2 separate regions of the Homo sapiens genome follow, and region 2 is linked to region 1. The links come from fine-mapping of genetic effects on gene expression. A gene starts in region 1. The other region holds a variant in brackets. All regions are shown on one strand. Distances are between the middles of the regions.

What was found.
Region 2: its variant is fine-mapped to the expression of PSMG3-AS1 in whole blood (INTERVAL, PIP 0.99).

Annotation. Positions count from the first base shown.
Region 1 is chr7:1,566,974-1,572,337 of GRCh38, reverse strand. It overlaps PSMG3-AS1 (PSMG3 antisense RNA 1), which reads right to left and starts at 2,265. Exons shown (of 5, transcript NR_027329.1): 1 at 2,059-2,265. PSMG3 (proteasome assembly chaperone 3) reads left to right here and starts at 2,306. Exons shown (of 2, transcript NM_032302.4): 1 at 2,306-3,214; 2 at 4,488-5,006. The coding sequence starts at 2,999. The coding sequence ends at 4,640. RefSeq lists enhancers at 1,255-1,304, 1,315-1,384, 2,008-2,576, 4,283-4,851, 4,731-5,025 and 1 more and silencers at 1,685-1,764, 2,205-2,634.
Region 2 is chr7:1,608,088-1,613,451 of GRCh38, reverse strand. No RefSeq gene overlaps it. Among named protein-coding and RNA genes, the nearest start is that of PSMG3-AS1, 41 kb to the right of the region's middle. RefSeq lists enhancers at 3,837-4,368, 4,369-4,901, 4,902-5,364. The variant G/A (reference allele first, on the strand shown) is at 3,119.

The DNA.
Region 1 (5,364 bases):
TGAATAGGGGCTGGGTAAAATGAGGCTGAGATCTGCTGGGCTGCATTCCCAGACAGTTAAGGCATTCTATGTCACAGGATGAGATAAGAGGTCGGCACAAGCTACAGGTCATAAAGACCTTACTGATAAAACAGTTTGCAGTAAAGAAGCTGACCAAAACCCACCAAACCAACATGGCGATGAGTGTGACCTCTGGTCGTCCCAGCTGCTACACTCCCACCAGCGCCGTAAGTTTACAAATGCCATAGCAATGCCAGGACGTTACCCTAAAGGGTTTAAAAAGGTAAGGCACGAATAATCCACCCCTTGTTTAGCATATCATCAAGAAATAACCACAAAAATGGGCAACCAGCAGCCCATGCTGCTCTGCCTATGGAGTAGCCATTCTTTATTCTGTTACTGGTGGAGGGTGTCCAGGTTCTTGGCATCTTGAACAAAGAATTGGACAAAATGCACAAAGCCACCGGGCGCGGTGGCTCACACCTATAATCCCAGCACTTTGGGAGGCCGAGGCGGGCAGATCACCTGAGGTCAGGAGTTCAAGACCAGCCTGGCCAACATGGCGAAACCTCGTCTCTACTAAAAACACAAAAGTTAGCCGGGCATGGTGACGCACGTCTGTAATCTCAGCTACTCAGGAGGCTGAGGCAGGAGAATTGCTTGAACCCGGGAGGCAGAGGTTGCAGTGAGGATCACGCCACTGCACTCCAGCATGGACAACAGAGACTCTGTCTCAAAAAAAAAAAAATGCACAAAGCAAAAAAAGAATGAAGCAACAAAAGCAGAAATTTTTTGAAAATGAAAGTACATTCCATGGTGTGGGGGCGGCCAAAGCATAGAGGCTCAGGGCCCCATTACAGAACTTGTGAGGTTTAAATACCCTCTAGGGGTTTCTACTGGTTACTTGGTGTACGCCCTATGTAAATAAAGAGGATGAAATAAAGTTACAAAATCATTTACTCAGTGTACACCCTATGGAGAGGGTATTTCCTGTCATAGCTGAAGTGTTCCCTGCCTCCAGACCCTGTTTTCCTGCCTCAATTCCTTTACTTTTCTAATAAACTTGCTTTCACTTTGTGGACTCGCCCTCAATTCTCTCTTGGGGTCTGGATCGGGACCCCTTTCTGGTAATATAGACAGAAAATACGGCCTTGACATGGTTGTCAGGAAACGACAGTAAGGCCTCCGAGGGTGGGGTTCTGAAGGGATGTTAAACGCCCCACCCCGAGGAAGGCTCTGGAGGCTCCAATCACTTTCAGCCTCTGCTACCAAGATGTCCGACCCTACCAATAAAACTTCCAGCAGCGGGGCGCGGTGGCTCACGCCTGTAATCCCAGCACTTTGGGAGGCCGAGGAAGGCAGATCACCTGAGGTCAGGAGTTCAAGACCAGCCTGACCGACATGGTGAAACCCCATCTCTACTAAAAATTTAAAAAGTTAGCCGGGCCTGGTGGCGCACGCCTGTAATCCCAGCTACACAGGAGGCTGAGGCAGGAGAATTGCTTGAACCAGGGAGGCGGAGGCTGCAGTGAGCCGAGATCGCGCCACTGCACTCCAGCCTGGGTGACACAGCAAGACTCCGTCTCAAACAAAACAAAACAAAAAACCTTCCAGCTTGGAGAAACTGAGAGTGAGCAGTAGGGAGTGAGGGGGTCCCTGGGAGGAACCAGAACTCATCCCGCTTCAGGGTGGGGCTGGCCCCCTTCTTGGCCTTGGCCGGGGCTTCGTGTCACGGAGCGCCCGAGGGACGGTCGGAGCCCACCCCAGCCCGCCCGCCGCCTGAGCCTGGCCGAGCTCTCTGCACCTGCACACGTCTGTAAAACGCGGATGAAACGCTTCTACGGAACCGGGTGGCTGAGATGAAGTGAGTTATGGGTATAAAGCGCTTAGAGCGATGCCTGGCGGACACTCGGTGCCAAATAAGCGTTCGCTGTGGCGACGATGACGCCTCCAGCCCAAAGCCCGTGGTCGAGCAGGGCCGGGCTCCCAGCGCTAGGGGGTTCCTAGGCGCGGCGCTTCGGGGGTCCTGGACACAGACACGGGGGACAGAGCTCCTACCAGCGACGATCCCGAGGGTCTGCAGCAGAGGGGCTGAGGCCCGGGACGGGGGTGGTCGCAGCGCCCTTTCCTGAAAAAACGGGGTTCGGCTCTAAGGCGCCCCCAAGCCCTGCCGGCAGCGCGGAACCCGAGCCGCTCAGAAGCCCGGGAGCCCCAAGTCTCCGGGACCAGAAGCGCCGCGGCCCTGACTTCCGGAAGGTGGACGGAACCCGCGGACGGGGCGGGCCCGCGTGGCGCACGCAGAGCCACTTCCGGGCGCGGCGCCGGCTTGGTGAGCGCGGGTACCCGCGGGCTTCCCCGGGCGGCTGCGTCCCCAGTAGCCCGGCCGGCCTCGGCACCGCGTGTCGTGGGGGTCCCGGGCCGCGGCTGCAGGGCCGGGGCGGCGGCGAGGCCGAGGGGCGGGAAGCCACTGCCCGGCCTGGCAGTGTGAACGTGCAAGTCGATCCCCTAACCCAGAAAGCCCCAGGCGCGGTCTCTATGGGCGGCCCCGCTCCTGCTTCTGTTTTATTTTTTTACGGACAGGGTCTCGCTCTACCGCCCGGGTTGTAATGCAATGGTGTGATCACGGCTCACCGCAGCCTCGACCTCCCGGGCTGAAGCGATCTTCCCGCCTCAGCCTCCTGAGTAACTGGGACCACAGGCGCGCCCTGCTGGTTTTTTTTTTTTTTTTTTTTGGTAGAGATGGGGGTCTCGCTATGTTGGCCAGGCTGGTCTCGAATTCCTGGCCTCAACGATCGTCCTGTCTCGGCCTCCCAAAGTGCCGGGATGACAGGCATGAGCCACCGCGCCTGGCCCCTTCTTTTGAATGGGCCTCCTTGCGTTTCCGTTTCAATGCCCCGTGCTACTTTTTTGGGAGCCCCAAGGCTGTACTGTTTGATTGACTCCTTTTTTTCCCCTTTCTTTTTAACCTAAATTAAAGCTGCCACTGCAGAGCCCCGCCATGGAAGACACGCCGTTGGTGATATCGAAGCAGAAGACGGAGGTGGTGTGCGGGGTCCCCACCCAGGTGGTGTGTACGGCCTTCAGCAGTCACATCCTGGTGGTGGTGACCCAGTTTGGGAAGATGGGCACCCTGGTCTCCCTGGAGCCCAGCAGCGTGGCCAGTGACGTCAGCAAGCCTGTGCTCACCACAAAAGTCCTTCTGGGGCAGGATGAGGTAAAGTGGATTGGCCGGGAACTGTGGCTCACGCCTGTAACCCTAGCACTTTCAGAGGCCTAGGCGGGCAGATCGCTTGAGGCCAGGAGTTTGAAACCAGCCTGGGCAACACAACAACACACACACAAGTCACTACAAAAAAACAAGTGCCTACACAAAATATATATATAGAGAGAGGCTGGGTGCAGTGGCTCACACCTGTAATCCCAGCACTTTGGGAGGCTGAGGCGGGCAGATCACTTAAGGTCAGAAGTTCCAGACCAGCCTGGCCAACATGGGGAAACCCCATTTCTACGAAAAATATAAAAATTAGCTGGGTGTGGTGGCACATGCCTGTAATCTCAGCTACTCAGGAGGCTGAGGCAGAAGAATCGCTTGAACCCGAGAGGCGGAGGTTGCAGTGAGCTAAGATCGTGCCACAGCACTCCAGCCTGGGTAACAGATAGAGACTTGGTCTTAAAAAAAAAAGGAAAAGAAAAGGAAACAAAAAATTAGCTGGGCCTAGTGGTGTGTGCCTGTGCTCCCAGCTACTTGGGAGGCTGAGGTGGGAGGATGGCTTGAGCCCTGGAGGTTGAGGCTGCAGTGAGCCATGATTGTGCCACTGCGCTCCAGCCTGGGTGAGAGAGCAAGACTCTGTCTTTAATAATAATAATAATAATAATAATAATAAAGTGGTCAGGAAGGGACCCCCAGGGAGGAGCATAAACCTCTCCAGTGGCTGTGATTTGTCAGTAAGGACATGGGGCATCTGGCGGACAAATACCCCTACAGCGATAGCATTTTCCGGGCATTTGTGGGTCTCAAGGCGCCCTGCTTGCCCTCAGTGGATGCTTTGTCCAGCCCGCAGGCATTTTATCCAGCAGACAAGCAGAAGCAGCAGTTTTGTCATTCGAGCCGCCTCCCCTGCCATGGTACATTACGTGAGCAGGCGGCTGGCTGTGCTGTGCTCTGTGGAGATCACACGTGAGATTCGACAGCACTCGCTTCTGCAGGCTTCTCTTTCCTGGGTTCTTTTAGATGAGAGAGAGCCAGAAGAGGCGGGGCTGCGGAAGGCGCTGGGAAAATGAATGGAGTGATGGTCTTTAGCAGTGTGCCCGTGACTGGAGTGTTCTGAGTGCTGCCAGAACTCTGAGTCACAGTTGCATGGACTTATGTGGCGGTTAATGGTGGTGTGGGAAGCCTGCCTGGGTTCCTAAGGGATACTTCATGAAAGCATTGAGGAAAAAACCAGGTTTCTTGCAGTTAAAATGGTTTCTTCTCCTTCCTTTACCAGCCTCTCATCCATGTCTTTGCAAAGAACCTGGTAGCGTTTGTGTCTCAAGAAGCTGGAAACAGAGCAGTCCTCCTCGCCGTGGCCGTGAAGGACAAAAGCATGGAGGGGCTGAAGGCGCTGAGGGAGGTGATCCGGGTGTGCCAGGTGTGGTGACCTGGAGGCAGCCGCCCCGCGCTGCTCAGCAGGACACGTGAACACCCAGACACCCACTCAGGGACTCAAGTCTCACCTCCCTCCCCGGTGGAGGGAGGAACTTTGGCACTAGCCCTTGGAGCCAGGAAAAAAGACTCGTGTCTCAGGCAGACTCTTACTCTGGTTACTAAGATCATCTGTGCATGACGGGGAGGGTGGAACAGGTCCCGGAGGAGTCGTGAATGGTTCTCACCAGGACCTGAATCGTTGCTTGTGTTTGAGAATTGGAGGAATGAGTCAGCAGGCGTGGCTCATGGCCCCCCCGTGTGCAGGATCAATTGTAGGAGGAAATTTCTTTTTTATTAAAAGCGAATGTGTATCCCAAAATACTTCACTGTCCTCCTTAACAGTAGCGAGACATTGCAGCCGCACAGCATGAGTTCAGTTTCATGGGCTTCATGAAGGGAAGCTTGTTGGGCAGAAACGCAGAGGGACGTAGTTCCCAGGAACTGGGTGGATCCCATGCTTGGGCCTGTGCACGCTGTCACCCAGCTCCAACTCCAGTAACTTCTCTGAGCCTGCTGGGAAGCTGGTGGCCGTCAGCGGACATCTCTTACTATCTTAATGTGTGTGCCCGTTACCGTGCTGCAGCTGGGGACAGACGCTGTCCTCTGAATCCTGCATAGCAAGGGAGGGGGGACGCTTCTGTCAAGGGAGCAGCGTGCACAGAGGTCAGGAGAGAGGA
Region 2 (5,364 bases), 41 kb before region 1:
TGGCCAAGCACAGTGGCTCACACCTATAATCCCAGCACTTTGGGAGGCCAAGGAAGGAGGATCACTTGAGCTCAGGAGTTCAAGACCAGCCCGGGCAACTGTGAGACCCCATCTCTATAAAAAAAAAAAAAAAAATAGCAGGGTGTGGTGGTATGCACCTGTGGTCCCAGCTACTCAGGAGGCTGAGGCAGGAGGATCACTTCAGCCCAGGAGGTTGAGGCTGCAGTGATCTACAAGCACGCCACTGCACTCCACATTGGGTAACAAAGAAAGACCCTGTCACACACACACAAAGTGTGTGTGACACTTCAAATGTCAGGCTTCAAATGTATCATGCACCAACAGCCACATGGGCCAACCTTTCTTTCTTTTCTTTTTCTTTTTCTTTTTTCTTTTTTTTTTTTTTTTTTTTGAGACAGAGTTTTGCTGCTCTGTGGCCCAGGCTGGAGTGCAGTGGCCTGATCTCAGCTCACTGCAACATCCGCCTCCCAAATTCAAGCAATTCTCGTGCCTTAGCCTCCCGAGTAGCTGCGACTACAGGCATGTGTCACCAAGCCCGGCTAATGTGTTGTATTTTAGTAGAGATGGGGTTTCACCACGTAGCCCAGGCTGGTGTTGAACTCCTGAGCTCAGGCAATCCACCGCCTTGGCCTCCCAAAGTTCTGGGATTACAGGTGTGAGCCGCCGCACCCAGCCCACATTGGCCCCCTTTCTGATACACACTAAACCTGTTCCTGCTCCAGGGCCTTTGCACTCTCTGTTCCCTCTGCCCGGAGCGTTCTTCCTCCACAACTACCTGTGGCCTCACTGACCGTCCTAGCTAATATCACCCCTCAAGCACCCCGCTCATAATCTTTTCTTTTTTCTTTTTCGAGACGGAGTCTTGCTCTGTTGCTCAGGCTGGAGTGCAGGTGCGCGATCTCGGCTCACTGCAACCTCCGCCTCCCGGATTCAAGAGATTCTCCTGCCTCATCCTCCTGAGTAGCTGGGATTACAGGCACATGCCACCATGCCCGGCTAATTTTTGTATTCTTAGTAGAGATGGGGTTTCACCATGTTGGCCAGACTGGTCTTGAACTCTTGACCTCGTGATCCACCCGCCTCAGCCTCCCAAAGTGCTGGGATTACAGGCATGCCTGCTCGTCATCTTTAGAGCACCTATCACTATCTGAATTATCTTTATTACTGGTTCCCTTGTTTATGGTCTGCCTCTCCCAGATAGATACAGAACAATGTCTGACACACAGCCCAGTCTTAGTGAACGTGAGATGAATGAATAAACCCCAGCCAGGCAGTTCTAATGGAAGCTGCCGTATGGACTCAGGGTGAGCAACTGACCAAGCCAGGCCATGCACAGTCCTTCCGTGGGGTTTTCCCAGCTGAGGCTAAAGAAAGACGCGCAGATCCCGCCCGGTGGCAGATGGCATGGCATGTGGCTCTGGAGCTCTCTGTCCCCCAGTAACCCCATCCCCACCCCCCAGGAGGAAGAGGCTGCCCGGCCAGAGGTAGATGTGCTGAGAGCAGCAGGGATGAGGCTGGAGACGTCCTGGGATCTCTGAGCCTTCCTTCTGTTGCAAAACCACAGAGTCCTGACTTCTAGGAAATTCCTTTCTTGCCTCAGCAAATTTGAGCCAGGTCTCTGTGACTCATTAGTAAAGGACCCTGATGGGCACAGATGGAACAAGAGGCCAAGGGAAGGGTGGGGCCTCTTTGTTATAAACGAGGTGCAGCTGGGCATTGTGGCTCACGCCTGTAATCCCAGCACTTTGGGAGGCCGAGGTAGGCGGATCGCTTGAGGTCAGGAGTTCAAGACCAGCCTGGCCAACATGGCAAAACCCCACCTCTGCTAAAAATACAAAAATTAGCCAGGCATGGTGGCGGATGCCAATAATCCCAGCTACTTGGGATACTCGGGAGGCTGAGGCAGGAGAATCGCTTGAACCCAGGAGGCGGAGGTTGCAGTGAGCCGAGATCACACCACTGCTCTCCAGCCTGGCAATAGAGCAAGACTCGGTCTCAAAATAAAAAAAAGGCACAAGTGAAATGGTCACTCAGCTGAGACAACAGAGATGGGAGTCTGATCTGCTTTAGGGTTGGATTAGACCAAGCTCTATGGGTCTCTTCCAGCCCCTGTGTATCCCAGGGGCTCCCCCACCTCTGTGGGCCTCTGTTTCTCCCATTATAAAATGATGGGGTAGACGAGATGGCCCCTGAGCCAAGTCTGGTCGAAATGTGGCATCCGAACTGACGCCCAGTAGATTTCTGACCAGTCTAGCCCATCACCCCACTGGAGGAGGGAGACACAGGCTGAGGACCACTGACCAGTCAGCCAGGAGACCTAGGCCCTGGGCACTGCTGGGCCGGTTCAATCCAGCGCCCTGCCTGGCAAAACCCCGCTACGACTCATCAACACGCAGCAACTCCCCCTGCCCCCAGCTCGGCAGCTCCAGTGTGGACAATCGGCAGAGCTGCTCAGGTGGATCTAAGACTCCCCTAATGAGATTCTTGACGATTGGGAAACTAATGATATGCTCAACTCATCTTTAATTGGCACGGTGCTGCTGGAGATGCCAGCGCGGGCGAGACGCGGGGCGGCTTTGACTCAAGCCATCATTATCGCTCCTTGGCGGCACTTGGTCCTCGCCCACCCTCAGAGCCATTGCCCCCGCCGCCCCGCTGCCCCCACCCCCCAGGCTGCGGTCTGCCAGCTGGGCCCTCAGTGGCTCCTTCTGTCTGGCCTGCAGGGGGGCCCCAGGCCTGTCCCCATGCAGATACCCCGCCCTGGGAGGCTGGTCACATTCTTGGGCGCTGAGAGGTCCCTCCCTCCCTCATCATCGGCGTTTCCCTCGCTGGGTGGGCCTCAGCCCTATGGAGGGGTCTCATGAATGGTGCAGGAAGCAGGAGGGGGGTGCTGACCGGTGCATGGGAACCTGCTTTCCTGGAGACCCATCTTAGCTCTTTCCATCCTCAGCTCCTGACCCCTTTCTCAGCCTCATTTTCCCCACGTGCAAAATGCAGATAACGTTAGCCCTTCCCCCGGGGGCTCACGAGTGGGCAGCCCGCACTGTGTGGTCAGACTCATGGGAAGACGAAAGGGTGCGGGAGAGGTCTGATGCCC[G/A]CTGCTCGCCACCTCCGGGGGTGTCCAGGCTGGGCACAGCAAGCTCTGTACGACCAGCCAGGGCAACCTGAGTCCAGTGACAGCCCAGTGCGTGGGGTCCACAAGGGAGACCCAGTGCCAGGCCGGCGTGGTGGGAAGAGGAGCTGCAAGTCATGCTGGGAGCCGGGGAAGGCAGACAGTGCCAGGCTGCAGACTCAGCCAAGGTCCAGCCAAGCCTGCTGCGCTGTGGCACCTGAGACACAGGTGCCCACCTTCTCCCCCTTGAAGCTCTCTTCCCGGAGCTCCCCAGCCCCCCGCTTCTCCTCCTGCCTCCTTGACTTCTCTCTCAGCCCCGATTGAGCCAGCCCGCAACTGTGGGGCTCCTAGAGGTTCACTTTGAGGCTCTCTTGCCCTCTCACTCACTCCCCCTCCCTAGGGGAGCTCACCTGTGACCTTACCTCGAATAACCACCCCCATGGATGGTCCCTAAATGTCTCTCTTTGGAGGCCAGCACCTCCAGACGCCCTGCAGGAACCGCTCCCCTTACTCAGTCTCCTACCACAGCGAATGACACCAACTGCCTAACCAGCTGATCAAAGCAGAACCCTGGAAATCATTTCTTTTTTTTCTTTCTTTCTTTCCTTTTATTTTTTTTGTTTTGAGATGGAGTCTCTCTGTGTTGCCCTGCCTGGAGTGCAGTGGCACAATCTCAGCTCACTGAAACCTCAAGCAGTTCTCCTGCCTCAACCTCCAGAATAGCTGGGATTACAGGTGCACGCCACCACACCCGGCTAAGTTTTGTATTTTTAGTAGAGACAGGATTTCACCATGTTGGTCAGGCTGGTCTCGAACTCCTGACCTCAGGTGATCCGCCCGTCTCGGCCTCTCAAAGTGCTGGGATTACAGGCGTGAGCCACCGCGCCCGGCCCTGGAAAGCATTTCTTGATCCCACCTTCTTTCTACATCTGGTCAATCACCAAATCCTGTCTATTTGACCTTCTAGATGTCTCTGGAAGTTCTTCACCAAGCTGTCTCCCCACTGCCCCCTATGCAGGCCCAAGCCTATCCCCGATGCACTGCCTGGACCAGTGGCTGCACAAAGCACGCCAGCCCATCACCTGCCCCAGCATCCCTGGTGCACTGTGGCCAGAGCCGAGCTGCCAGTCATGGAGCCGACCCCTCCCCAGCACGAGACCAGCTGACCCCCGGGCCATGCCGAGCAGCTCGGGCACATGACTCGGTCTTTCCTGGAAATTCTCTCCCAGACAGAATGATTGCTGTCACCCTTTGGGTCACAATGCTGGGAGGATGGGCGTTTAGAACATCTGGTGGCCACTGTCCCCAGCAGCAAGGAGGAAATCCATCCCCAGAAAGAGAGGGACCCAGAGAGGAGATCTCAGTGGTACCCTTGACCAGCCAAACCTGAAGGCCTGCGTTTCCCAGTTCTGTGAGCCGCTAAATTCCCTGCTATTTACTTCATCTTATTGGAGTTGGGCTCTTTCCGCTCATCTACAAGCCCTGAGGGACATGCTCTAAACATCAGCCTCCCCGCTGCAGGAATTAACCCCTTCAATCCAGCCCCTGAATTGGGTGGTCACTGAGATCGTCTAAAGGCCAAGTCTGCCCTCTGGCCCTGCCTGTAATCCCCCTCTCCAAGGCTCCCCAGTGCCCACAAGGTGAGATCCAGATCCCTTGGCGTGACTTCCAAGCCCCATCTGTCTCCAGCTCTCCAGTCGCATTGGTGCCCACTGTCCCCCTCGAGCTGAACACAGGTTCCTGTTGGACGGAAAGACCTGCAGCTCCCCAGGGGTGCTGGCCTTTGAACATGCTGCTCCATCAGCCGGGAACATTTCCACCACATCACACCTGCGAGGCCCAGCTCCCTCCTGGCCACTCCTGTCCAGCCTGCCCTGGGCCCCCAGGATGGGGAGATTATGAGGACTCCCATGCACCCCCAGAGACCCCTGGATCCCCCGTGGGAGGACTCTGCACCCCCAGAGCCCCCTGGATCCCCCGTGGGAGGACTCTGCACCTCTGGAGCCCCCGGGATCCCCCATGGGAGGACTCTGCACCCCCGGGGCCCCCAGGATCCCCCGTGGGAGGACTCTGCACCCCCGGAGCCCCCGGGATCGCCTGTGGTAGGACTCTGCACCCCCAGAGCCACACGGATCGCCTGTGGGAGGACTCATCGCTGCAGGATAAATGCATGCTGACTTCTCGATCTCTCCCCTGGGCTACACCTCTTGGGGGAAGGAACCGCCTTGATC